Regions from separate parts of the Homo sapiens genome. Here region 1 is linked to region 2. Evidence: fine-mapped expression QTL. A gene starts in region 2. The other region holds a variant in brackets. All regions are shown on one strand. Distances are from middle to middle.

Region 1 (16,641 bases), 39 kb before region 2:
TCGGTCTCCACGTCTTGGTGGTAGTGGTCCCCCAGGCCCAGCTGTCTTTTCTTTGATCTCTTTGTCTTGTGTCTTCATTTCTACAATCTCTTGTCTCTGCACACGGGGAGAAAAACCCACAGACCTTGTAGGGCTGGCCCCTACAACCGTGTTAGCCAGGATGGTCTCGATCTCCTGACCTCATGATCTGCCCACCTCGGCCTCCCAAAGTGCTGGGATTGCAGGCTTGAGCCACCATGCATGGCTTTTTTTTTTTTTTTTTTTTTTTGAGACAAGGTTTCACTCTGTTGGTGGCACAATCATGATGGTGGTGAAATCATGGCTCACTGAAGCCACAGCCTTGACCTCCTGGGCTCAAGCCTTCCTCCCACCTCAGCCTCTTGAGTAGCTGGGACTACAGGCATGCACCACCACGCCTGGCAAATTTTTTATTTTTTTATTGAGATAAGGTCTCACTATGTTGCCCAGGTCGGTCTTGAACTCCTGGCCTCAAGTGATCCTCCCACTTTGGCTCCCTAAAGTATTGTGATTGCAGGCACAAGCCACCATGCATCATAATTTTTAAAAATCGTAAACTAGGAATAGAAATAAACTTTCTCAACATGAGAAAAGGTACTTCTGAAAAACCCACAGCTACCGTCATACCCAATGGTGAAAGAGTGAAAGCTTTCTGCCTAAGATCAGGGACAAGACAAGGATGTCCACTTTTACCACTGCTATTCCACATTGTGCTGGAAGTTCTGGCTAGAACAATTAAACAAGAAAAAAAATAAAAGGCATCCAAATTGGAAAGGAAGAAGTAAAAATATCTCTATTCACAGATGACATGATCCTATATATAGGAAATGCCAGAGAATCACAAGAAAGCTTCTAGGGCTGCAGATTCAGCAAAGTTGCAGGGTACAAGATCACACAAAAATCAGTTGTGTTTCTACACACCCGCAATGAACAATCCAAAAAGGAAATTAAGAAAGCAATTCCACTTACAACAGTATCTAAAGGTTAAGCACCTAGGAATAAAGTTAACCAAAAGGGTGAACAATTTGTAGCCTGAAAACTACCAAATACTGCTGGAAAAGCATTAAAAAGAACACCTAGATGAAATATCAATACTACCCGAAGCAATCTACAGATTCAACGCAATCCCTCGGAAAATTCCAACAACTGGCCGGGCGCGGTGGCTCACACCTGTAATCCCAGAACTTTGGGAGGCCAAGGCGGGTGGATCACCTGAGGTCGGGAGTTCGAGACCAGCCTGACCAACATGGAGAAACCCTGTCTCTACTAAAAATACAAAATTAGCCGGGCGTGGTGGCACATGCCTATAAGCCCAGCTACTCAGGAGGCTGAGGCAGGAGAATCGCTTGAGCCCGGGAGGCAGAGGTTGTGGTGAGCTGAGATCGCGCCATTGCACTCCAGCCTGGGCAACAAGAGTGAAACTCTGTCTCAAAAAAAAGAAAAAAAAAAAAGGAAAAAAAAAGAAAATTCCAACAACCTTTTTGACAGACATGGAAACTCTGATCTTTAAGTTCATATAGAATTGCAGGAGGCCCAGAATAGCCAAAACAATCTTGAAAAATAACAAAGGAGACTCATACTTCCAATGTCAAAATTTGCTACAAACCTACAGTAATCAACACTGTGTGGGCTAGACATGGTGGCTCACGCCTGTAATCCCAGCACCTTGGAAAGCCGAGGCAGATCACCTGAGGTCAGGAGTTCAAGACTAGCCTGGCCAACATGGTGAAACCCTGTCTCTACCAAAAATACAAAAAAATTAGCCGGGCGTGGTGGCAGGTGCCTGTAATCCCAGCTACTCAGGAGGCTGAGTTAGGAGAATCGTTTGAATCCAGGATGCGGATGTTGCAGTGAGCAGAGATCGTGCCACTGCAATCCCGCCTGGGTGACAAGAGCGAGACTCCGTCTCAAAAAAAACCCAAAAAACTGTGTGGTTCTGGCATAAGGATAGACGCAATCCAGTGGAATAGAATTGAAAGTCCAGAAATAAACTCATAAATCTATGAGTGTCATGCATTGAATTGTATCCCGCTAAAGATATGTTGAAGTCCGGCCGGGTCCAGTGGCTCACGGCTGTAATCCCAGCACTTTGGGAGGCCGAGGCAGGTGCATCACCTGAGGTCAGGAGTTTGAGATCGGCCTGGGCAACATGGTGAAACCCCGTCCCTACTAAAAATACAAAAATTAGCTGTGTATAGTGGCAGGCACCTGTAATCCCAGCTACTCGGGAGGCTGAGGCAGGAGAATCCCTTGAACCCAGGAGGTGGAGGTTGCAGTGAGCCGAGATCACGCCATTGCACTCCAACCTGGGTGACAGAGCAAGACTCTGTCTCCAAAAAAAAAAAAAAAAAAAAAAAAAAGTTGAAGTCATAACCCATAGTGCCTCAGAATGAGACCTTTTTAAATTTTTTATTTATGAAATATGTGGCTTTATTCGGAAATAGAGTTTACACATGTGATCAAGTTAAAATGAAGTTATTAGCATGGTCCCTAATCCAATTTAAGTAACGTTTTATTAAAAGGGGAAATCTGGAAGATGAAAGCAGAAGTTTCAATGACGCAACTAGAAGCCAAAGATGGCCAGCAAAGCACTAGACGTGACAGGAGGGGCATGGAACAGACTCTCCCCGACATCCCTCAGAAGAAAACAGCTTGACGGATGCCTTGATTTTGGACCTCTAGCATCCAGAATTGTGAGACAATTTCTGTGATTTAAAGCCACACAGTTTTTGGTACTCTGGCGGCCCTAGGAAACTAATACAATAGGTCCAGCACAGGGGCTTGTGCCTATAATCCCAGCACTTTGGAAGGCCAAGGCAAGAGGACTGCTTGAGCCCAGGGGTTCAAGATCAGCCTGGGCAATATAGTAAGACCCCATCTCTGAAAAAAAAAAAAAAAAAAAAACAACCAAAGCCAATGAAATTTTATATTTTCTCAGCAAAAATCATGCCAACAAGAAAGGAAGCAAACAGAGAGACCTAACATAGGATTAAAAAGGAGTTTCATTAAAAAAAAAAAAAATAGCCGCTGGGCACGGTGGCTCACGCCTGTAATCCCAGCACTTTGGGATCCAGCCGAGATGGGTGGATCACAAGGTCAGGAGATCGAGACCATCCTGGATAACATGGTGAAACCCCGTTTCTACTAAAAATAAATAAATAAAATAAAAGTAAAAAAAAAATTAAAAAAACAAGCCAGGTATGGTGGCACGTAACTGTAGTCCCAGCTACTTGGGAGGCTGAGGTGGGAGGATCACTTGAGCCCAGGAGGTTGAGGCTGCAGGTGTGAAGTGGTATCTCATTTCTGGTGTTTTGGTAGAGACAGCAGCCTCGCTATGTTGCCCAGGCTGGTCTCGAACTCTTGTGCTCAAGCAATCCTCCCACCTCAGCCCCCCAAAGTGCTGGGATTACAGGCATGAGCCACTACACCCAGCTGGATGACTATAATTTTTACAAAAGGAAAATAACAAGTGTTGGCTAGGATGTGGAGAAATTAAAACCCTCATACACTGCTGGTGAGAATGGAAAATGGTGCAGCTGCTGTGGAAACCAGTTTGGTGGTTTCTCAAAAAGCTATACATAGAATTACCACATGACCGAGGAATTCCACTTTGAGATACACACCCAAAGGAAATAAAAACAAGGATTCAAATAGATACTTGCATGCCAATGTTCCAACAAACATTAGTCACAATAGCCAAAAGGCAGAAAGAACCCAAGTGTTCATCAACAGATGAGCGGGTAAATCAAATGTGGTCTTCTTTTTTTGAGATGGAGTCTCGCTCTGTTGCCCAGGCTGGAGTGCAGTGGCACGATCTTGGCTCACTGTAGCCTCCGCCTCCTGGGTTCAAGCGACTCTCGTGCCTGAGCCTCCCAAGTAGCTGGAATTACAGACATGAGCCCAGCTAATTTTTGTATTTTTAGTAAAAAGGGGGTCCTGCCACGTTGGCCAGGCTGGTCTCGAACTCCTGACCTCAGGTGATCCACCCGCCTAGGCCTCCCAAAGTGCTGGGATTACAGGCATGAGCCACCACGCTGGGCCCAAATGTGGTCTATTTGTACAATAGAATATTACTCATTCATAAAACGGAATGAATGAAGTTCTGATGCACACTACAACAGGGATGAGCCTTGAAAACATGCTCAGTAAAATCAGCCAGACACCAAAAGACAAATATCGCATAATTCCACTTACATGAAACATCTAGACTAAATCCATAGAGACAGAAAATACACTGGAGGTTACTAAGACCTGTGGGGAGGGGAAGTGGGGAGTTGCTGTTTCATGGGGACACACTTTCTGTTCTGGGTGATAGAACGTATTGAAAATAGATAGTGGTGATGGTTGGAGAGTACTGTAAATGTAATTAATGTCACTGACTTGTACACTTAAAAATGGTAAAAATCAACTCCGGCCGCGGTGGCTCATGTCAGTAATCCCAGCACTCTGGGAGGCCAAGGCGGGCGGATCACAAGGTCAGGAGATCGAAACCATCCTGGCTAACACGGTGAAACCCCATCTCTACTAAAAATACAAAAAATTAGCCAGGTGTGGTGGCGCACGCCTGTAGTCCTAGCTACTTGGGAGGCTGAGGCAGGAGAATCGCTTGAACCTGGGAGGTGGAGGTTGCAGTAAGCTGAGATTGCACCATTGCACTCCAGCCTGGGCGACAGAGCGAGACTCCATCTCAAAAAAAGGCGGGGCGCGGTGGCTCACGCCTGTAATCCTAGCACTTTGGGAGGCCAAGGCGGGTGGATCACGAGGTCAGGAGATTGAGACCATCCGGGTTAACACGGTGAAACTCCGTCTCTACTAAAAATACAAAAAAATTAGCTGGGCGTGGTGGCGGGCACCTGTAGTCCCAGCTACTCAGGAGGCTGAGGTAGGAGAATGGCGTGAACCCGGGTGGCGGAGCTTGTAGTGAGCTGAGATTGTGAGATCGTGCCACTGCACTCTAGCCTGGGTGACACAGCGAGACTCCGTCAAAAAAAAAAAAAAAAAAAAAGAAGTAAAAATGGAAAATTTTATATAATTTTACCACAATAAAAAACAAAGTTGGCTGGGCGCGATGGCTCACACCTGTAATCCCAACACTTTGGGAGGCTGAGGTGGGCCAATCACTTGAGGTCAAGAGTTCAAGGCCAACATGGTGAAACCCTATCTCTACTACAAATACAAAAAATTAACTGGGTATGGGGGAGTGGGAAGTGGAGGTTGCAGTGAGCTGAGAACTTGCCACTACACTCCAGCCTAGGTGACAGATTATCCCAGCACTTTGGGAGGCTGAGGAGGGAGGATCACTTGAGTCCAGGAGCTCGAGACTAGCATGGACAACATAGTGAGACCCCTCTCTCCAAAAATTTTTTTAAATTAGGCAGGCCTGCTGGCCTGGCTAATTTTAAGTAGTCCCAGCTACTTATGGGGCGAAGGCAGGAGGATTGCTTGAGTCCAGGAGGTCGAGGCTGCAGTAAGCTACGATCACATCACCACACTCTAGCCTTGGCGACAGAGTGAGACCCTGTCTCAAAAAAATACAAATAAGGAAGTTCAACCTGGGCTCAGGGAGAGGATCAGTCCAAAGTCCAAATTACAAGCAGGGTCTGGTTGGGTTTGGGGAGAAGGCAGCATTAGATTGGATCAGAGTTCAGGGACTAAAAACAGAATTCATTAGACGGGGTTCAAGAGTCATGAGAGGGCCACGGGTCATGCTGGGTGGGGTCAGATCAGAGAGCAGTCAGGCCTCACCTGAACATGGCAATGAGCAAGTTGACCAGCAGGATGTTGGCCACGAGCAGGAAGATGACGAGGAGCAGCACCACCAGCCAGTTGGCATACTGGGAGACGCAGGTGCCCGCCTGGGCCCCAGGAGGGTGTGCCCAGAAGCCGGGCTCCGACGAGCAGTTGCTGTGCTCCATGAGGGCCACTGTGAAGAGAGACATTCAGAGATGGGGTGAGGGGGACAGAGACCTAAGAAAGACAGGAAGACTGCCGGGCGCGGTGGCTCACGCCTGTAATCCCAGCACTTTTGGGAGGCTGAGATGGCCGGATCACCTGAGGTGGGGAGTTTGAGACTAGCCTGACCAATGTGATGAAACCCCATCTCTACTAAAAACACAAAACTGTTAGCCAGGCGTGGTGGCACGCGCCTGTAGTCCCAGCTACTCGGGAGGCTGAGATAGGAGAATCGCTTCGATCTGGGAGGTGGAGGTTGCAGTGAGCTGAGATCGTGCCATTGCACTCCAGCCTGGGCAACAAGAGCAAAACTCCATGTAAAAAGTAAAGTACAGGTTCCTCTTCAAAGACTTTCCTCCCCATCTAATTAACAATAAATAGTAACTTCTCTTAGAAACAAAATTTATTCAAACACCTGTGCTAACATTCTTAAATATCTACTAGCCATAAAAAATAAATCAATGTACTTTATGTTCTTAGCTCTCACAATTTAGCCTAAATATTTGCCCTGACATACTTATACTGGTTCAAGCAAGCATTAGATCATAGCCTGTTCCTCTTCCTTATTTAAAAGTGTTTTTACCTTTCTCAACATTCCACAAGTTACTTCCTCCTTCCTTTGTTCTCCTCTGCCTTCGCTTCTTTTAAAAACTTCTAAGTTACTAGCCAATCAAGACAAATACAAAATGTAAAGTCCGGTTCCAGCCAATAAAAACCAGACACAGCAGTAAAATAGACGCGTCAGGTTATAAATGACCCTATCTCCTTTGTTCCGTGTACTCTCATGACAAAACTGCTGGCGAGTGTACCCTTTCTACAAAAAATAAAAATGGCTTTACTAAAAAAATTAAATTTATGTTCAAGTACTATTTCTTTACGACACCACAAAATAAACATTTCTAACATCCATCTCAAAAAAAAAGAAAAAAAAAAAGAAAAAAGAAAGACAGACAGAAAGACAGAGGGGGTGGGGTAGGCAGAGACCCAGAGAGATGATGATGGGGAATATAGGGTATCACTCAGAGATCCAGAGAAAGAGGGAGACAGAGACTCAGAGAGACAGATATTTTCTTAGAGCCAGGAGGACAGAGACCCAGGGAGCGGGGACAGAGACTCAGAGGAAGGCTGTCAGGCCGTCATCCCCCCTACCGTCCATGTCCTCCTGGGGAATCTGCCCGAAGATCTGCAGGTAGGGACGGTAGAAGACGCGGCGCAGGATACTTGGGAAGTCACTGTCCCGTGGCCTCAGGAGCCCCTCCGTGGCCACGCCATAGGCTACCAGCCACACGCCGAGGAAGAAGAGGAAGAAGAACACGTCCTTCATCTGTGGGGAGATGTGGCTGAGTCTGGCCCCGCCCTTTCCTACTCTGGCCCCACCCCTATATCCCAAAAACACGCCCCATTGCTCCCCAAAGTCACGCCCCTTCTCCACGGACCACTCCCTCCCTGGCCCCACCCCTTTCCCTATGTCCCCGCCCACTTTGGCCCCGCCCCTGCCTCACCATCTTGCTCACGATGACGATCTTGGGCCCCAGCTGTTTGTTGACCGTGAAGATGTGAAGCAGCCGCACCGTGAAAACCATGAAGTCGATGCAGAGGACAGTGCGGCCCAGGTGGTACAAACCCGGGGTCAGCCTGGGGTGTGGGGAGATGCCACAAGGGTCAAGTGTCACAAGACGCCAAGGAAAATGGAAGTCTTCCCAATGCCATCCTTCAGAGGAAGCTGCAGCCTCCACCGGGCAGGACCAGGACCCTCCCAGTCACCCGGGGTTTACTCAAATTTATTCAGTACCAAGCTGGTCCATGCAGGGCCCTGGCACCCATTTTTAAAATGGCTGCGCCTATTAAGTAATGACTGAATGAACGATGGCCTTAGCAAAGAGCTGGTCCCTGTAAGAATCAAGCTGGAAAAACTGCCGGAATATCTGTCCAACCTATAAAAGGCAAAACATATAGAGTCCTTACAAACTAATACGCAAAAGGAAGGAAGCCAGATAAAGGATACCACGTACAATTCACAGAGGACGTTCAAACGGCCAGTAAACATCAATAATTCCTATGGGGAAAATAAAAATTCTACCCCTATTTTGCATCCTCATGTACTTAAACTTTGGATGGATTAAAAACCTAGTGTATGGACAGACGCGGTGGCTCACGCCTGTAATCCCAGCACTTTGGGAGGCCGAGGCAGGCTCAAAAAAAAGAAAAGAAAAGAAACATACAAAAGTGAAAGTGAAAAGACAAGCCACAGACTTCGAGAAGATATGAAGATATTAAGACCAACAAAACTACCGAGGATTAGGATCCAGAGTATAAGGAGTATATACATTTATACATATACAAATCAATGAACCCCAATTAAAAAAACGGGAGGGTGGCCGGTCGCAGTGGCTCACGCCTGTAATCCTAGCACTTTGGGAGGCCGAGGCGGGCGGATCACGGGGTCAGGAGATCGAGAACATCTTGGCTAACACGGTGAAACCCCGTCTCTACTACAAAATACAAAAAATTAGCCGGGCGTGGAGGCAGGCACCTGTAGTCCCAGCTACTCAGTAGGCTGAGGCAGGAGAATGGCGTGAACCCGGGAGGCGGAGGTTGCAGTGAGCCGAGATCGCGCCACTGCACTCCAGCCTGGGCTACAGAGCGAGACTCCGTCTCAAAAACAAAAACAAAAACAAAAACCAAAAAAAAAACAAGGGGGCACAAGGACATATGGCCATTAAGCTTAGGAAAAGATGTCCAACCTATCTGGTAGTCAAGAGTGCATAAATTATAACAAGGAGAGGTCATGTTTACCCATTAAATTGGCAAATTTTTTTTCAGTTAAATTGAGAGCTACATTTTAGAGTGAAAGTATCAGGCATTGTCGAGCATGGCCTCAAGGGGGCACTCTCTTACCCTGATGGCAGGTGTGGAAATGAGTGAAGCTACTTAGAAGGAAATCTATCCATGTCAAAAATAAATGTACCCTTTGACCCATAAACTTTACATCTGGGATGTAAACTTTTATTATTTTGGAATAATAAAAAAACAGAAGGCTGAGCATAGTAGCTCACGCCTGTAATCCCAGCACTTTGAGAGGCCAAGGTGGGAGGATTGCTTGAGCCCTGGAGTTTGAGA[C/T]CAGCCTGGGCAACAGAGTGAGACCCTGTCTCTATTTAAAACAAAAAAAGAAAGAAAGAGAGAACCTAAATGTCCATCTAGAGGGAACTGGCGAAACAAAGGATGATTCATCCATTCAATTCCGGAGATGATTAGACATTTCTCCCTTTTTTTTTTTTTTTTTTTTTTGACAGAGTTTTGCTCTTTTCACCCAGGCTAGAGTGCAGTGGCATGATCTTGGCTCACTGCAACCTCCGCCTCCCAGGTTCAGGCAATTATCCTGCCTCAGCCTCCCGAGTAGCTGGGATTACAGGCGCCTGCCACCATGCCCGGCTAATTTTTTGTATTTTTAGTAGAGATGGGGTTTCACCATGTTGGGCAGGCTGGTCTCAAACTCCTGATCTCAGGTGATCCACCCGCCTCGGCCTCCCAAAGTGCTGGGATTACAGGCATGAGCCACCACGCCAGGCCCGTTTCTCCCTTTTAAGCTGAGATCTTTCCATTTTTCACCTGGAAAGTGGTAGGCTTGATAAACTGTCCAAAATATCACTGGCAATCCTAGAGCATGGTAGCATATGGCCTTAGCCCTTTCATCTCAAAAGTCACTTTATACAAAATACAACAAATTACAAACAGAAGTATTAGTGTTCTGCAAAACTCTCATATCTTGCTCCCTGCTTGAATAAATTATTTATGTTGAATCACTTTGTAACACTGCTAACATAGCTTAGAGGAAGCCTGCCTCTCAGCGTGTCTACTGGGAAAAGCTTGAGTAGGGATCATCACTGTCATCACTGTCAACCATTCAGGATGTGTCAGGTCCCTTGTAAACAGTCACCAGGTTGTTGGCCAGGCACGGTGACCCACATCTGTAATCTCAGCACTTTCAGAGGCTAAGGCCAGTGGATCACTTGAGGCCAAGAGTTCAAGACCAGCCTGGTCAATATGGCAAAGCCCCATCTCTACAAAAAAAATACAAAAAAAATTTAGCTAGGTGTAGTGGTGCATGCCTGTAATCCCAGCTACTCACGAGGCTGAGGCAAGAGAATCGCTTGAACCCAGGAGGTGGAGGTTGCAGTGAGCCAAGATCGTACCACTGCACTCCAGTCTGGGCGACACAGCGGAACTCTGGCTCAAAAAAAAAAAAGAAAAGAAAGAAAACAAAAACAAACAAACAAACAAAAAACCAGTCACCAGGTTGTATCCACAAACTTTTCTGTTTGCTCTCCTCAAAAGGAGGAGTATCCTAATGCAGGATACTCCATAATGCAGGCAGGGCAAGGGTTAAACCCTTAGCTTGGAGGGATGGAAGGAAGCATAGAAGGAAGGAAGGAAGGAAGGAAGGAAGGAAGGAAGGAAGGAGGGAGGGAGGCAGAGGGGCAGAGGACAGAGGGAGAGAGAGAGAAAGAAAAGAGAAAAAGAAAAAGAAAAGAAAGGAAAAGAAAAGAGAAAGAAAGAAAAGAAAGAGAGAGAAAGAAAGAAAGAAAGAAAGAAAGAAAGAAAGAAAGAAAGAAAGAAAGAAAGAAAAAGAAAGAAAGAGAAAGAAAGAAAGAAAAAAAAAGGAAAGAAAGAAAAAGTCGGGGGCAGGAGGGCAAGGGGCCTGGGACCAACGAGCTATGTGGAGGAAGAGAAGGGAGGAGGTGAGGTTGGCACCCAGGTCGGGGCGCTCCCATAAATATCTGTTAAACTTCAGGCCTAGCAATAAATAGCAGCAGAGGCTGAGTGGCGGACAGTGGGGTTTTCTCCTGAATCCTGCCGTCCCTGAAGCCAGATCTCCAGGTGCCAGCCAATTACCCTGGGGCAATCGTCATGCCCGACTTTCCTAAGAGGGGTTCTCAATCAGCAGGGTTGGCTTGACCTGCTGCCCAGCTGCGGGGAAGCCGGGAGTGGAGACCCCGGGAGTGGGCAGGAAGGATGAGAGGTGGCCAGGGGCCAGGGTTCCAAGGCCCCGGGGCACTCACCGGCAGCCCACGCCCAGGAGGAAGCAGGTGAGAGCCACTAGGTCGCACTGGTTCCAGCTGTCGGCGAGGTAGAGGCGCAGGCGCTGGCTCAGTGAGGCATGGCCAGGCCCGGGGCCCCCGCTGGCGAGGCTGCCCCCGCCTCCGCTCAGGCCCTGGCGCAGTTCCTCGCACAGCAGCGTGAAAGCCCAGAAATAGAGCAGCAGCTCCAGGGAGCCGGGCGGCGCCGGCTGGAAATCCACGAGCAGCACCCGCGAGAAAAGCAGCAGGAACAGCAGGTAGCTGACCACGTTGCCCATGAAGATGGTCACCGGCGCGCCCCAGAAGTGGAACCAGCGGCGTAGGCACCGGCGCCCCCCGCAGCGGCCCCCGCAGCAACCCGGACGGCCCGACTGGCGCGGGACCCCCAGCGGCGTCTTCTCGGCTGGGTCCGCCGTCCTGTGGGGGAAGAGAAGAGAAGGGAGGAGGCCTCACTCTGACCTCTGAGTCCTGATCTCCACCATCATCGAGACTTTTGGCTTGGCACATCTCACCCTGCCTGACCCGAAACTCAGTCTGCCCAGAGCTAATTTCTTGGGTTTTGACTCTTGTATCTAACCTCTGACCTCTGAAATCTCCGGTCAAGAGGTGGATTGATCGCTTGAGCCGAGGAGTTGGAGACCAGCCTGGCCAACATGGCAAAACCTCATCTCTACAAAAAATATTTTAAAAATATACCCGGATCGGGCGCGGTGGCTCACGCCTGTAATCGCAGCACTTTGGGAGTTAAGGCGGGCAGATCACCTGAGGTAGGGAGTTCGAGACCAGCCTGGCCAACATGGTGAAACCCTGTCTCTACTAAAAATACAAAAATTAGCCGGGTCTGGTGGCGCATGCCAGTAGTCCCACATACTCGGGAGGCTGAGGCGGGAGAATCGCTTGAACCTGGGAGGCAGAGGTTGCAATGCACTGCAGCCTAGGCGACAGAGTGAGACTCTGTCTCAAAAATAATAATAATAATAATAATAAAATAAATAAAAATAAAAATTTAGCCAGTAGTAGGGGCAAGCACCTGTAGTCCCAGCTACTGGGGAGGCTGAAATGGGAGGATCACTTGAGTACAGGAGGCCCAGGCTGCAGTCAGCCATGAACATGCCACTGCACTCCAGCTTGGGCAATAGAGCGAGACCCTGTCTAAAAAAAAAAAAAAAAAAATTAAAGTAGAAACGGGCTGGGCGCGCTAGCTCACGCTTGTAATCCCAGCATTTGGGGAGGCCGAGGCAGGCAGATCAGCTGAGGTCGGGAGTTCGAGACCAGCCTGACCAACATGGAGAAACCCCGTCTCTACTAAAAATACAAAATTAGCCTGGCGTGGTGGCGCATGCCTGTAATCCCAGCTACTTGACAGGCTGATGCAGGAGAATCGCTTGAACCCGGGAGGCGGAGGTTGTGGTGAACTGAGGTCGCGCCATTGACTCCAGCCTGGGCAACGAGAGCAAAACTCCGTCTCAAAAAATAAAAAAATAAAGAAGAAGAAGAAGAAAAGACCATAGAGTGCATGGCTCCACTTATGTGAAGTGTGCAAAACAGGCAAACCCAGAGACAGCAGGTACATGAATGGTGGCCTAGGGCTGGGAAAACGAAAAGCAGTGCTAAGCATGTACAGAGTTTCTTGTTGGAGTGATGACAATATTTGAAAATGAATTGTGGAAATGATTTCACAATTCTGTGAGTACACCAAGAAGCACTGAATTGTATACCTTAAGTAAGTGAACGGTATGATATGTGGATTACAGCTCAATAAAGCTGCCATTTAAAAAAAAAGAAAAAAAAGTGAGGCTGGGCGTGGTAGCTCAAGCCTGAAATCCCAGCACTTTGGGAGGCCAAGGTGAGCAGATTGCTTGAGCCCAGGAGTTCAACACCAGCCTGGGCAACATGGTGAAACCCCATCTCTACAGAAAAAAAAAAAAAAATTAGCCAGGTGTGTTTATACCTGCAGTCCCAGCTACTCAGGAGGCTGAGGCAGGAGAATCACTTGACACTGGGAGGTTGAGGCTGCAGTGAGCCAAGATCAAGCTACTATACTTCAGCGGAGGCAACAGAGTGAGACCTTGTCTCAGAAGGGAGGAAGGAAGGGTTGGGGGGAGGGAGAGAGGGAGGGAGGGAAGGAGATAGAGAAAGAAAGAAAAGAGAGGGAGGAAGGAAGGAAGAAAAGAAGGAAGGAAGGGAGGGAGGGACAGAGAGAGAAAGAGAGAGAGAAAGAAAGGGAAGGAAAGAAAGGAAGGAAGGAAAGAAAAGGAAAGGAAAGGAAGGAAGGAAAGAAGGAAGGAAGGAGGAAGGAAGGAAATAAGTGAGGCCAAGCGCAGTGGTGTATGCCTGTAATCCCAGCACTTTGGGAAGCCGAGGTGGGAAGATCACTTAAGCCTTCGAATTTGAGACCAGCCTGGGCAACATGGCGAAACCCCATCTCTACAAAACATATAAAAATTAGCCGAGCATAGCATGCATCTGTAGCTACTTGAGAGGCTGAGGTGGGAGGATGGCTTAGCCTGGGAGGTTGAGGGTGCAGTAAGCCATGATCGCGCCACTGCTCTCCAGCCTGAGTGACAGATCAAGATCCTGTCTCAAAGAAGAAGAAAGGAGAAGGAGAAGGAGGATGAAGAGAAGGCAGAGGAGCAGGAGGAGGAGGAGCAGGAGAAGGAGGATGAGGAGAAGGCGGAGAAGCAGGAGCAGGAGGAGGAGGATGAAGAGGAGGAAGAGGAGAAGGAGGATGAAGAGGAGAAGTAGGATGAGGAGAAGGCGGAGGAGCAGGAGCAGGAGGAGGATGAAGAGGAGAAGTAGGATGAGGAGAAGGCGGAGGAGCAGGAGCAGGAGGAGGATGAGGAGGAGGAAGAGAAAGAGGATGAGGAGAAGGAGGAAGAGGAGGAGGATGAGTAGGAAGAGGAGGAGAAGGAGGAGGAGGATGAAGAGGAGGAGGAGAAGGAGGATGACGAGGAGGAGGAGAAGGAGGATGACAAGGAGGAGGACAAGGAGGAGAAGGAGGAGGAGAAGGAGGAGAATAGTGAAAGCTACAGAAACTAAGAACTCCTAGAGAAAGAAGGTCAGATGCAGAGAGGACAGCAAGCTCCCTACTGATAGAGAAAACCATCATGGTATTTCACAGTTCTCCTGCAGAATCCTGGTAAGAAGGGAGAGCGGTGGGTCAGAAAGCTTCCCCCACATCTGCCATCTTGAATCACCTCCAGCCAGGCCACAGGCAGGTTCCTGGGCTCAGCCCCAGCCTCTCTGGGGGGATCTTGGGATCTGTCCTTCAACAGAGCTCTCAGTGGGGGGGCTCCACAGGGGCTGAGAGCACAGACTCAGGTACAAGAGGATCTGGGATCAAATCTCGGCTCTACCATTTACCAACCACATGATCTGAGGCAAGTGACTGAATGACTCCATTATTTCACCTGCAAAATGAGAATAATTATAGGCCCTATTGCACTGGGTTGTTGGAATTAAACGAACTGATTTCCGGACGGGTGCGGTGGCTCATGCTTGTAATCCCAGCACTTTGGGAGGCCGAGGCGGGCAGATCACGAGGTCAGGAGATCGAGACCATCCTGGCTAACACGGGGAAACCCCAGCTCTACTAAAAATACAAAAAAATTAGCCGGGCGTGGTGGCGGGCACCTGTAGTCCCAGCTACTCAGGAGGCTGAGGCAGGAGAATGGTGTGAACCCGGGAGGAGGAGCTTGCAGTGAGCCGAGATCATGCCACTGCACTCCAGCCTGGGCGACAGAGTAAGACTCCATCTCAAAAAAAAAAAAAAAAAACCAACTGATTTTCAAAAGAATTGAGCACAGTAGTTGCTCATTGTACGTGTTTCATAACATCAGCTGTTATCAAGGTCGTCATCATCATCACATGTGCAGATGAGAAATTGCTAGGGAAGGACACCATTACTGATCCTGACCTCAGACACTGGGGCCTTCTATCAACCTTTCTCAGTGGTCCAAATGTTTATCTTAGTTTTTCCCTTCTCTCTTGATACATATTTTGTTCTTTTTTTTATTTTTTGACGTTTATTTTTAGTTCAGAGGTACATGTGCAGGTTTGTTAGGTAGGTAAATTTGTGTCATGGGGGTTTGTTGTACAGATTATTCCATCACCCAGGTATTTAGCCTAGTACCCACTAGTTATTTTTCCTGGTCCTCTCCCTCGCCCTACCCTCTGTCCTCCAATAGGCCCCAATGTGTGTTGTTTCACTCTGTGTGTCCATGTGTTCTCATCATTTAGTTCTTACTTATAAGTGAGAACATGGGGTATTTGGTTTTCTGTTCCTGTTAGTTTGTTATGGATAATGGCCTCCAGCTCCAACCATGTCACTGCAAAGGAAATGATCTCGTTCTTTTTTATGGCTACAGATAAATATTTTGTATCCTCTCTACATTGTCTTAAAAAACTATATATAGGCCAGGCATGGTGGCTCATGCCTGTAATCCCAGCATTTTGGGAGGCTGAGGAGGACAGATCACAAAGTCAGGAGATGGGGAGCATCCTGGCCAACATGGTGAAACCCCGTCTCTACTAAAAATACAAAAAAATTAGCTGGGCGTGGTGGCAGGTGACTGTAATCCCAGCTACTTGAGAGGCTGAGGCAGGAGAATCGCTTGAACTCAGGAGGCGGAGGTTGCAGTGAGATGAGATCGCGGCACCGCACTCCTGCCTGGCGACAGAGCAAGACTCCGCCTCAAAAACAACAACAAAAAAAGAAGTTTGATAAATATTCTATTTCATTTGCTTAGGCCTGACTTTTAAAATACCTTAACGGCAACCATAGCATAGTGATTAAAAGCAGGGGCCTTGGGACCACGAACAAAATAGGTGAAAAATCCCTCAATCAACTGATTCCGCTTGCTACAGAGGGATGGAAGTATGTGTAGCATGAAGAAAATCAATTTCTGGTGATGGCCTCCTTGATGGCAGAACCAAATCTTGAGCCAAGTCTTGAGCTTGGCACCTGGGAAGCTTCCTCAGTATCTCAGTCCCTGATGGGACGTGTGATATAGTTTGGATGTTTGTCCCTTCCAAATCTCACATTGAAATGTAATCCCTGGGCCAGGCATGGTGGCTCATGCCTGTAATCCCAGTACTTTGGGAGGCTGAGGCGGGCGGATCACAAGGTCAGGAGTTCAAGACCAGCCTGGCCAATGTGATGAAACCCTGTCACTACTAAAAGTACAAAAGTTAGCCAGGTGTGGTGGTGGGCTCCTGTAGTCCCAGCTATTCGGGAGGCTGAGGCAGGAGAATCGCTTGAACCCAGGAGGCGGAGATCACACCACTGCACTCCAGCCTGGTCGACAGAGCGAGACCCCATTTCAAAAAAGAAAGAAAGAAATGTAATCCCTGGCTGGGCCCGGTGGCTCACACCTGTAATCCCAGCACTTTGGGAGGCCAAAGTGCGCGGATCACTTGAGGTCAGGAGGTTGACACCAGCCTGGCCAACATGGTGAAATCCCGACTCTACTTTAAAGATACAAAAATTAGCTGGGCGTAGTGGCATGCACTTCTACTCCCACCTACTTGGGAGGCTGAGGCAGGCTGATCAGGAACCCAGGAAACAGAGGCTGCAGTGAGCCAAGATTGTACC
Region 2 (12,115 bases):
GACAGGGATGGGCGGAGGGGCCAGGGTTCAGGGCGGGCGTCCCGGCTCCACTCTGGAGCCCCGAGCATGCAGCCCCCTGGTGCCCGGGCCCCGCCCACAGAGGCCCGCCTCACATTGCTGTGCTTGCGGCCGGCCCCCGTGAAGTCCAGCTCTCCGTAGGCATCGGTGGGCTTCTCCGTGGTGTGTGCATCGCTGTCCCACACGGTCACCACGGCTGCCCCGAAGGCATCCTCCATGGCCACTGCGGGGTGGGCGGTCCGGGGGCGCCCACACTGGCACAAGGTCCCTCTGGGGGTGCGAGGGCGGAGCGTGAACCCAGGGCTGCCCCCCGACCCCAGCACCCTGTCAGCGTGTTCATGCTCCTGTAGAGGGGGCTGTCGACACTGAGTCCACACCCACAGAGGCAGGCAGAGTCCACGCTGCCCCTGGCCCTGGCTCTGACGGCCTCGGGGAGAGACTGGAGCCGAGGACGGTCCCCTTTCCCCACGGGAAGGAAGCCAGTGAGTCCAGAAAGCCTGAGCAGGAAGAAGCAGGTCACTGTCACCTGAGGAGCCTCAAGTGGGAAGGCAGAGGGCCACTGGGGGTATCCTTGCTGTGCCCTGTGCCCCCATCCAAACACATGACGTTCAACACGAGAAAGAACATCCAGCGGGTAACTCAGGGAGAGCCCGCATGCTCGGGGCTGACGCGGCTGTGTGACTTTGGGCGAGCGGCTTCACCTCTCTGAGCCTAAATTTCCTCCTCTAATGAAAAGACAATAATAGCGCGGCCTACTCCACGGAGCTATGAGGAGCCAGGGAAAGAACGCCGTGTTTCCTGAAATGAGGCTCGCATACCAGTCCCAGCCAGAGGCAACGCGACACGAACTTCACACGGAGCTTAAAATAACCTTGAATAACGCAGTGAGAAAGTCATTCCTTTTTCAGTTCTCCTGACGACTGTCAAGGAGAGAGGCTCAGCCGGGTGCTAGAATATTTTTGAATGCCTAACCCTTTGCTACTCTTTTGAACAAGAAAAGCAGGCCTCGGGCTCAAAAAATGGAGCTGGCAACAGCCATCTAGCGAGTAGGGAAACACCTTTGTTTGCTTTTCATTGTCTTTGGCTTCTGTGTGGCTTGTTTCTTCCTCTCTGTGCCAAATGGAACAGGTTTCCATTTGGAAAGTTTCCACATATAAAACTTTCCCCCACCTAAAGAAATGCACAAGTCTCTCTTGCTTTCTAAAGGTGATTGGCACCTGAGTAAGTAACAGGGGTTTGGAGAATGAGAAATTCATTTGAAAATGTAGGGTCGGGTATGATGGCTCATGCCTGTAATCCTAGCACTTTGGGAGGCTGGGGCCAGAGGATCACCTGAACCCAGGAGTTCGAGACCAGCTGTGCAATATAGTCAGACCCTGTCTCTAAAAATAAATAAATAAATAAAATAAAATAAAATAAAATTAGCCAGGTGTGGCAGCATGTGCTTAGGAGGCTGAGGCAGGAGGATCACTTCAGCCTGGGAGATCAAGGCTGCAGTGATGCAGAGAGCTGTGACCACGCCACTGCACTCCAACCTGGGCAACAGAGTGAGACCCTGTTCAAAAAAAAGAAAAGAAGGAAAGAAAAGCAAGCAAGCAAGCAAGCAAGCAAGCAAGCAAGCAAGCAAGAGGCCGGGCGCAGTGGCTCATGCCTGTAATCCCAGCACTTTGGGAGGCTGAGGCGGGTGGATCATCTGAGGTCAAGAGTTTGAGACCAGACTGGCCAACATGGTGAAACACTGTCTGTACTAAAAAAAATACAAAAATTAGCTGGTCGTGGTGGCGGGTGCCTGTAATCCCAGCTACTCAGAAGGCTGAGGCAGGAGAATTGGTTGAACCCAGGAGGCAGAAGTTGCAGTGAGCCATCACACTATTGTACTCCAGCCTGGGAGACAAGAGCGAAACTCCATCTCAAAAAAAAAAAAAAAAAAAAAAAAAAAAAAAAAACTAAGGAAAGAAAGGAAGGAGGGAGGGAGAGAGACAGAGAGGGAGGAAGGAAAGGAAGGAAGGAAGGAAGGGAGGGAGGGAGGGAGGGAAAGAGAGAGAAAGAAAGAGAAAGAGAGAAAGAAAGAAAGAGAGAGAGAAAAGAAAAGAAAAGAAAGAGAAAGGAAGAAAGAAGGAGAAAAATGTATCTAAATTCTTTGTTCCAGATTCCAGGAGTTCAGATATCAGGGGAGACCTGTATTTACACAAACCTAGTGAGCAGATTTAAGAGCAATTTTACAGAAGGGATAGCAGAGGTGCTACAAGGATTTGGCAAAAGCCGTAAAGACACTAAAAGAACGGCTAACTGATCCACACATGGGATGAACCAAACACACTTAGGCCAGGTCCTGGCACAGTGAGAACTACAATAAAGTGTCTTCTTCATTCCTGAGTCTACCTCCAGGGCCCTGGCATGCCTCAGTTTACCGACTTTGTCCGTTCACCCATTTCAGCTCCATCCTTGAATCCCCTAGTTCCCCTGCAGCTACTTCCAACACCTGCAGCTACTTCCCAGAAAGTTTGCTCTTCTGAGCAAAACTTCAAGGACGGCTGGGCACAATCCAAGCACTTTGGGAGGTCAAGGCAGAAGGACTGCTTGAGCCCAGGAGTTTGAGAACAGCCTGGGCAATAGAGCGAGACCCCATCCCTACAAAAAAAATTGTTTTAATTAGCCAGGTGTGGTGGTGCACGCCTGTGGTTCCAGCTACTCAGGAGGCTGTAGCAGGAGGATCACTTGAGCTCAGGAGTTCAAGGCTGCAATAAGCCATGATCACACCACTGCAGTTCAGGCTAGGCAACAGAGCAAGACCATGTCACTAAAAATAAGAAATAAGGCCGGGCATGGTGGCTCATGACTGTAATCCCAGCACTTTGGGAGGCCAAGGCGGGCGGATCATGAGGTCAGGAGTTCGAGACCAGCCTGGCCAACATAGTGAAACCTTATCTCTACTAAAAATACAAAAATTAGCCGGGCATGGTGGTACGCGCCTGTAGTCCCAGCTACTCAGGAGGCTGAGGCAGGAGAATCACTTGAACCTGGGAGACGGAGGTTGTGATGAGCAGAGATTGTGCCACTGCACTCCAGCCTGGGCAACAGAATGAGACTCTGCCTCAAAAAAAAAAAAAAATAATAATAATAAAATAAAAGCTCTTCACGGAATAGTCTGGAGCTTGTACTGTCCAATGTGATAGCTGCATGGGTTCTTTGTAGCCATGGAGCTCTTTCTGTTCTAATAAGTTAAAATTAAATCAAATAAAAAATTCAGGTCAAGTGCAGTGGTTCATGCCTGTAATCCCAGAACTTAGGGAGGCCAAGGTGGGCGGATCACCTGAGGTCAGGACTTTGAGACCAGCCTGGCCAACATGGTGAAACCCTGTTTCTACTAAAAATACAAAAATCAGCTTGGCATGGTGGCGGGTGCCTGTAGTCCCAGCTACTCGGGAGGCTGAGGCAGGAGAATGGCATGAACCCGGGAGGCGGAGGTTGCAGTGAGCCAAGATTGCACCACTGCACTCCAGCCTGGGCGACAGAGCGAGACTCCACCTCAAAAAAAAATTCAGTTTCTCAGGTACAATGGCCATATTCCAAGTGCCCAGTAGCCCCCTGTGGCCAGGACTGCCATATTGGATGTAGACATAGAACGTTTCCAAAATCGTGGAAAATTCTGACATTCAGTGCTAGGAGCCATTCCTTCTGCACAGCTTGCCTCCTACACTCTTTCCTCGGTGGAGCCACAGAAACTGAAATAAATTGTTTTTTTGTTTGTTTGTTTGTTTTGTTTTGTTTTGAGATGGAGTCTCGCTCTGTCTCCCAGGCTAGAATGCAGTGGTACGATCTCAGCTCACTGCAACCTCTGCCACCTGGGCTCAAGCGACTCTCGTGCCTCAGCATCCTGAGTAGCTGGGATTACAGGCATGTGCCACAGTACCTGGCTAGTTTTTGTATTTTTAGTAGAGATGGGGTTTTACCACATTGGCCAGGCTGGTCTCAAACTCCTGACCTCAAGTGATCAGCCCACCTCGGCCTCTCAAACTGCTGGGATTACAGCTGTGAGTCACTGTGCCTGGCCTGAAATTGTTCTTGATAAAAATCATCAATTTCCTGCCTGGCTCCATATACAACGGCCCTTATTCAGGTTTCATCTGACTGTATCACAAGTGGCCCTGGCTACAGCTGAAAGGCTCTCATTCTGGAAACCCTCTCCTTGGCAGGATACCCCTGCCCCTCTGGCCTTCCTCCCCGCCCCGGCTGCTTCATGCCTGACTTGTTTGTGGCTTTCTCTTGCTTTTCACCTCCCTTGAGTGTAGGTGTTCCCAGTGCAAGCCTTCCCTACATGATTCTCAAACCCAATGTGTGCAGAGGCCAGTCAAGTAACTCAACAGAAAGAAGTAGCCAGGGCCAGGAGCAGTGGCTCACACCTGTAATCCCAGCACGTTGGGAGGCCCAGGTGGGCAGATCACTTGAGGTCAGGAGTTCGAGATCAGCCTGGCCAACATGGTGAAACCTTGTCTCTACTAAAAGTACAAAAATTAGCCAGGCGTGATGGTGGGTGCCTGTAATCCCAGCTACTCGGGGGGCTGAGGCAGGAGAATCGCTTGAACCCAGGAGGCAGAGGTTGAAGTGAGCCGAGATCGCACTACTGCACTCCAGCCTGGGTGATAGAGCGAGACTCCGTCTCAAAAAAAAAAAAGAGGTAGCCGGGTATGGTGGCTCTCGCCTGTAATTCCAGCACTTTGGCAGGCAGAGTGAGGTGGGAGGCTCACTTGAGTCCAGGAGTTGGATACCAGCCTGGTCTGGTATCAAAGGGAGACCCGGTTTCTACAAAAAATTTTAAAATTAGCCAGGCATGGTGGTGCATGCCTGTGGTCCCAGCTACTCCGGAGGCTCATGTGGGAGGATCGCTTGAGCCCAGCAGGTCAAGGCTGCAGTGAACCATGATCGTGCCACTCCAGCCTGGACAACAGAGCAAGACCCTGTCTCAAAAAAAAAAAAAAAAAAAAAAGAGAGAGAGACAGAAGACAGATATTTTTAAATGCTCTTCTAAACACACACACACACAAACACACGCACACAATTGGCTATAGAATTGCCAGTTTGCAACTCCCCTGACTTTACACGTTGTTTTCCCTGTGACGTCTTACCTACTTCCAGTTTCAATTACCAGCTACAACTCGGACCTCTCAGATTCTGGACATTAGTCCAGACCTTTCCCAATCTCAGTCCCCACATGCCCCTCGGTCCCCCTAGGCCGCTCATATGCACAGATTCCCACATTGCACTCAGCGACATTTCCCAAACCTGCTTGCCCTCCTGAGCTCTCCATCTCAGGGACAGCCCCACTGTGTCCCAGTCAGCAGAGCATACGTCCCGGAGCCATCCACCGATGGCGGCACCCCCTCTCTCCCTCATCACCCTCATCAAGCCCCAAGCTCTGCCTTCCTGCCCCCTGAGTCTTTGCCCCATGCCCTCCTCTCTGTGTCCCGAAAGCCCTGACCTGGCTCAGGCCACTACCCCTCCCGCTCAGACGCTCTCTACAGCCTCCTCCCGAGCTCCTGTTCATCCTCTCCCAGCCCCAGAAAGTTTTTCCACACCCAGAGCCAACCCCACTGCTGCGGTGATGCCCCAGCTCCCAAGGACAAGATCCCAGCCCCTTAGGGTGGCCTCTGACACCCTGCAAGCTCTGGCCCTGCCCTCCTCTGCAGCCTCTTCTCTCATGACAGTGCTCCCTGCACCCTGAACTTTGATTCATATTCAAGCCAAACCATATGGTCCTTAGCAAGGACTTTGCACATGCTGTTCAAATCACTTTTTTCTTTCTTTCTTTCTTTTTTTTTTTTTTTTTGAGATGGAGTCTTGCTCTGTCACCCAGGCTGGAGTGCAGTGACGTGATCTCTGCTCATAGTAGCCTCCGTCTCCCAGGTTTAAGTGATTCTCCTGCCTCCTGAGTAGCTGGGATTACAGGCATGCGCCAATACGCCCAGTTAATTTTTGTATTTTTAGTAGAGATAGGGTTGCACCATGTTAGCCAAGCTGGTCTCGAACTCCTGACTTAGGTGATCCACCCGCCTCGGCCTCCCAGATTGTTGGGATGACAGGCGTGAGCCACAATGCCCGGCCCCAAATCGCTTTCCATGGGCCTCTCTCCAGCTCACTTTCAAATGTCACCTCACTAGCCACTCTTCCTCCCTCCAGAAACCATTAGTGACATTTTGTGTCCCCTCCCAGTCTTAAGCAAACACCTCCTCCCAGCTCTCACAGAGCCCAGTGGCTCGTCTTTGGGAGCTGCAACCCCTTGCCTTACTATAATTATCTTCTGCGTTTCTTCCTCCTCAGGCCAGACCAGAGTTTCCTAAATTGTCTTGACCACACTGACCTATCAGTAAAAAGGTTTTGAGCACTCACGTCCAACAAGCGCATATCTGTTTATTTATCCATCATTTACAAGCCATACTGCACTAATATATAGTCATAACAAAATACACACTGAAGTAGGAATGTGGATACTTCCCGCACCCCAAAAACTGTCTTGAAAAACAACTAGAGGGCTGGGCGCGGTGGCTCACACCTGTAATCCCAGTACTTTGGAAAGCCAAGGCAGGTGCATTGCCTGAGATCAAGAGTTCAAGACCAACCTGGGCAACAGGGTGAAATCCCGTCTCTACTAAAATACAAAAAATTAGCTGGGCATGGTGGTAGGCACCTGTAATCCCAGCTACTAGGGAGGCTGAGGCATGAGAACTGCTTGAACCCAGGAGGTGGATGTTGCAGTGAGCTGATATCGCAACACTGCACTCCAGCCTGGGCGACAGAGCCAGACTCTGTCTCAAAAAAACAAAAAACAAAAAACTAGAAAGCCTGGGCCAGGTGCGGTGGCTCACACCTGTAATCCTAGCGCTTTGGGAGGCCGAGGCCGGCGGATCATGAGGTCAGGAGATCGAGACCATCTGGCTAACACGGTGCAACCCCGTCTCTACTAAAAAAAAAATACAAAAAATTGGCCCAGCGCGATGGCTCACGCCTGTAATCCCAGTACTTTGAGGGGCTGAGGCGGGCGGATCACAAGGTCAGGAGATCGAGATCATCCTGGCCAACACGGTGAAACCCCGTCTCTACTAAAATACAAAAAATTAGCCGGGCGTGGTGGCGGGCGCCTGTAGTCCCAGCTACTCGGGAGGCTGAGGCAGGAAAACGGCGTGAACCCGGGAGGCGGAGCTTGCAGTGAGCCGAGATCGCGCCACTGCACTCCAGCCTGGGGGACAGAGCGAGACACCGTCTCAAAAAAAAAAAAAAAAAAAAAAAAACTAGAAAGCCTGGATCCGCTTGAGAGGCCGTCACTGAAGGGCGGGAGCTCCTCGCGGACGCACACACCCTATCTAGCTCAATTGGTGTCCCCGGCCACCAAGACAGGGCCCGCCCGCGGTAATAATTGCCACCTCCCAGTGGGAGCTGCAGATATTTCCCAGCGTCCTGTGCTGGGCGCTGTGCCAGGAATATCACAAGCATTAACTTGTTTAATTCTCATAATAACCCCAGGAGATCAAGCCTCTTTTGATGCCCAGATGAGAAACGGGACCCAGAGAGGTGAAATGATTTGCCCGAAGCCACACAGCACGTGTCCCAGGGGAAATTGGAACCCTGGCAGGGCCGTTGAATTAGGCTAAAGGGACCTTGGGAGCGCTGAGTGAGGGTTTCTTGCATGGATGGATGAATGAATGAATGAATGAATGAATGAATGAATGAAACAGAAATACCCAAAAGGGAAAGACAGAGACACAGAAAGTGACACGAAGAGACAGAAGCACATAGAAGAGACATCGGGGAGGAAAGAAGCAGAACCGAGCCCTGGAGCGTCTACACTGACCCTGAGCGGGAGAATGGCGAATGGGGAATGAGGGGTGTCTACACAGACCCAAACGCTCCTAGAGGGAGAGCGTCGGCAAGGAACGCCCTTGGGAAGGTCCCCGAGTCCAGGAATGGGGAAGGAGCAGGGCTGGGGCGTGACCATCCGCGGGCGGGGTCAGCGGGCCGCGGACCCTCTGGGGTCAGTCCAGGGGCGAACTCCTCACCCCGGATCTGTGGAGTCAACTATGAACGTCGTGCAGGTCTTCTTCTTGAAGATCTTGGGGATCCAGCTCTGGGGACAGGAACAAATGTAGGGGTGGAAGTGGGGTGAGAGGGCACCCAGTTCTGTCCTATGGGACACAGAGCCACCCACCCCGTGCGCTCCCCACGGACACAGGAGTCCGGGCCCCCAGCGCCCTCCCGCTCCAGACTCAGGAGTCTCGACCCCCATGCCCTGGACCCTGGAACCTGGACCCTCCCATCCCCCTCCTCCGTCTGACCCAGGAATCTGGGTGTCCAGCGCCCTCCTCTCTGGGAGCCTGGAGGCGAGGTCCCCAGCTCCGCGCTCCCGCAGACCCTGGTCCGGCGCTCACCTGCTCCTTCTCCGGCACCACCATGCTGCCGCGGCCGCCGCAACCTCCTGCAGCCCAGGGCCCCGGCGCTCCCTCCGCCGGCTCTGCTTCCAGACCCGCCCAGAGCAAACCGGATCCTCCACTTTCCAGCCTAGCCTGGGGCGGGGCGAGGTCTGGGGGGCGGGGAGTCTTGGAGACGCCAAAGCGGGAGGCGGGGAGAGGGCGGGTCCCAGGCCGCGATAAGGGGACAGAGGGACAGCGACCTGGGGGGTGCAGAGGTCCGGGCCGGGGGGAGAGAGACACACAGGGGAGACTCCAAGGGCAAGCGCGAGATGGGAACAGAAGGAGTTGGGGGCCAGTGGCGGAGAGGGAACAGACTCAGAAAGGAGGATGCCAGACAGGGAGGGGACAATTTAACCCAAAGAGGGGGAGACAAAGACTTAGGGGACAGAGAATCAGAAGGTGGGGCAGCAGGGACCCAGGGATAGACAGAGAGAGAGGGGGACAGAGACCCACAGAGAGAGGGGGACAGAGACCCAGGGAGAGGGGACAGAGACCCAGAGAGAGTGGGACAGAGACCCAGAGAGAGTGGGACAGAGACCCACAGAGAGAGGGGGACAGAGACCCAGGGAGAGGAGGACAGAGACCCAGAGAGGGGGGGACAGAGACCCAGAGAGGGGGGGACAGAGACCCAGGGAGGGGGGGACAGAGACCCAGGGAGAGGGGACAGAGACCCACGGAGAGGGGGACAGAGACCCAGGGAGAGGGGACAGAGACCCAGAGAGAGGGGGACAGAGACCCAGAGAGAGGGGGACAGAGACCCAGAGAGACGGGGACAGAGACCCAGAGAGAGGGGGACAGAGACCCAGAGAGAGGGGAACAGAGACCCAGAGAGAGAGGAGGACAGAGACCCAGAGAGAGGGGGACAGAGACCCAGAGAGACGGGGACAGAGACCCAGAGAGAGGGGGACAGAGACCCAGAGAGAGGGGAACAGAGACCCAGAGAGAGAGGAGGACAGAGACCCAGAGAGAGGGGGACAGAGACCCAGAGAGGGGGGGACAGAGACCCAGGGATGGGGGGACAGAGACCCAGGGAGAGGGGACAGAGACCCACGGAGAGGGGTACAGAGACCCAGGGAGAGGGGACAGAGACCCAGAGAGAGGGGGACAGAGACTCTGAGACAGAGGGGGACAGAGACCCTGAGAGAGGGGGACAGAGACCCAGAGAGAGGGGAACAGAGACCCAGAGAGAGAGGGGGACAGAGACCCACAGAGAGAGGGGAACAGAGACCCAGAGAGAGGGGGACAGAGATCCACAGAGAGAGGGGGACAGAGACCCACAGAGAGAGGGGAACAGAGACCCAGAGAGAGGGGGACAGAGATCCACAGAGAGAGGGGGACAGAGACCCAGGGAGAGGGGGACAGAGACCCAGAGAGAGGGGGACAGAGACCCAGGGAGAGGTGGACAGAGACTCTGAGACAGAGGGGGACAGAGACTCTGAGAGAGAGTGGGGACAGAGACCCAGAGAGGTGGATGCCAGAGATGGGGAGGAGACACCTTGACTGAGGCAAGGGGCAGAGGGGGATGCAAAAACCAAAGAATTGGGGGAAGGGCAGGAACTCAGAAAGGAGGGGCCAGAGATTTAGGGGAGAGAGAGGGACACAGACTTGGGGGAGGACTGACACTAAGATAAGAGTGGGACAGAAGCCCAGAGTGAGAGGGAGAGGCAATCCCATGGAGGAGGGACAGGGACCCTGAGAGAGCAGATGACAGAATTGAAGAGAGAGGAGGACCCGTGAACAGGAAAGGAGACCCTAGTGGGGGCAGTCATGAAGGGTGAGGAGTAGGAAATACTGACACACAGAGACGGGCAAGGCCACTTGTCTCCTGCCAGCCCTCTGTGATGGGGACAGCTGTGGCCTCCGTAACCTGAGTCCCCCTACCCCTCCCAGCTGTATTTATAGCCCTGGCCTAGCCCAGTCCCTGCCCCCAGATCTGAGTTCCAGGGACAGGAGGTCATGGGCACGTGTGTTGGGGGCCATGTTCCTTTCCCCCCATTCTAGGGCCTCAATACTGACATCACTCTCTCACCAGCACGTATCATTCCAGCTGGAAACACCCCGCAATCGAACCCCCAGTCCTTCCGTCCCAGGAGTCTCTCCCCTCTGATAAGTCTCTTCTGCCTCCCCCAGGTGCCCCAGGCTCCCCCAAAAACCTGCTAAAAGTCTAGCCTTTGTCTTTGCAGCTGCCAAACGTGAGCTTGTTGGTAGTTCAAAGTCAAGTCCCTTGGCCACCGTCTCCTGGCCAGGGAGAGACCCCTCACTGGTCCCCTCCCCAGCTGGGAGGAGGAGGAGCAGGAGGCAGGCAGGCGGGGACTGACCCAGAATAACTCAGGGCTGAGAGTAAATTTAGCTGGAGAGAGGGGAGGGGAAGGACCCTATTGGCTGGGGAATGGGGAGGGAGGGCCCCAGAGGGGGGTCAGGGGGCTCCGGAGACAGCCTCAGAGGGGTGTCCAGAGCCAGGCAGCAAGGACCAGAGGAAGGTGGACAGAGACCGAAAGGACAAAGGAGAGACACAGAGAAAAAAAGAGACCAACCCCAAAGGGACAAAGACCCCAACGTTTGTCCACATTGCCGCAGAGGCAGCTGGAGCCAGTGCTGCCTGTCCGTCCCCATGGGCCACCATAGGCCATGGCTGCACGCTTCTGTCCTCTGGGCTGGGGTGGCCAGCCTGCTCCTCCCCCCGGCCATGACCCAGCAGCTCAGAGGGGATGGGCTAGGCTTCAGAAACCGGAACAACAGCACTGGAGTCGCCGGGCTCTCCGAGGAGGCATCAGCAGAGCTTCGCCACCACCTCCACAGCCCTAGAGACCATCCAGATGAGAACAAGGATGTTTCCACAGAGAATGGGCATCATTTCTGGAGCCACCCAGACCGTGAAAAGGAGGATGAAGATGTCTCCAAGGAATATGGGCACCTACTCCCAGGCCACAGGTCCCAAGACCACAAAGTCGGAGATGAGGGTGTCTCAGGTGAGGAGGTCTTTGCAGAGCATGGTGGGCAGGCCCGTGGGCACAGAGGCCACGGGAGTGAAGACACGGAAGACTCAGCTGAGCACAGGCACCACCTCCCCAGCCACAGGAGCCACAGCCATCAAGACGAGGATGAGGATGAAGTTGTGTCCAGTGAGCATCACCATCATATCCTCAGGCATGGACACCGAGGCCATGATGGGGAAGATGATGAAGGAGAAGAGGAGGAGGAGGAGGAGGAGGAGGAAGAGGAGGCCTCCACTGAGTATGGACACCAGGCCCACAGGCACCGAGGCCATGGGAGTGAAGAGGATGAGGATGTCTCAGATGGACACCATCATCATGGCCCCAGCCACAGGCACCAAGGCCATGAAGAAGATGACGATGATGATGATGATGATGATGATGATGATGATGATGATGATGTCTCCATTGAATATAGACACCAGGCTCACAGGCACCAAGGCCACGGGATTGAAGAGGATGAAGATGTCTCAGATGGACACCATCATCGCGACCCCAGCCACAGGCACCGAAGCCATGAAGAAGATGACAATGATGATGATGATGTCTCCACTGAGTATGGACACCAGGCCCACAGGCACCAAGACCACAGAAAGGAAGAGGTTGAGGCTGTCTCAGGTGAACACCACCATCATGTCCCTG

The links.
Region 1: its variant is fine-mapped to the expression of TRPM4 in whole blood (TOPMed, PIP 0.95).

The regions. Positions count from the first base shown.
Region 1 is chr19:49,191,264-49,207,904 of GRCh38, reverse strand. It overlaps TRPM4 (transient receptor potential cation channel subfamily M member 4), which reads right to left. Exons shown (of 25, transcript NM_017636.4): 17 at 11,031-11,465; 18 at 7,473-7,605; 19 at 7,120-7,294; 20 at 5,764-5,941. Among named protein-coding and RNA genes, the nearest start is that of TRPM4, 42 kb to the right of the region's middle. RefSeq lists a silencer at 10,820-11,146. The variant C/T (reference allele first, on the strand shown) is at 9,091.
Region 2 is chr19:49,154,214-49,166,328 of GRCh38, reverse strand. It overlaps TRPM4 (transient receptor potential cation channel subfamily M member 4), which reads right to left and starts at 8,537. Exons shown (of 25, transcript NM_017636.4): 1 at 8,439-8,537; 2 at 8,070-8,137; 3 at 114-288. The coding sequence starts at 8,462. It overlaps HRC (histidine rich calcium binding protein), which reads left to right and starts at 10,933. Exons shown (of 6, transcript NM_002152.3): 1 at 10,933-12,115. The coding sequence starts at 11,092. RefSeq lists enhancers at 1-358, 359-1,002, 8,182-8,803 and a silencer at 7,312-7,498.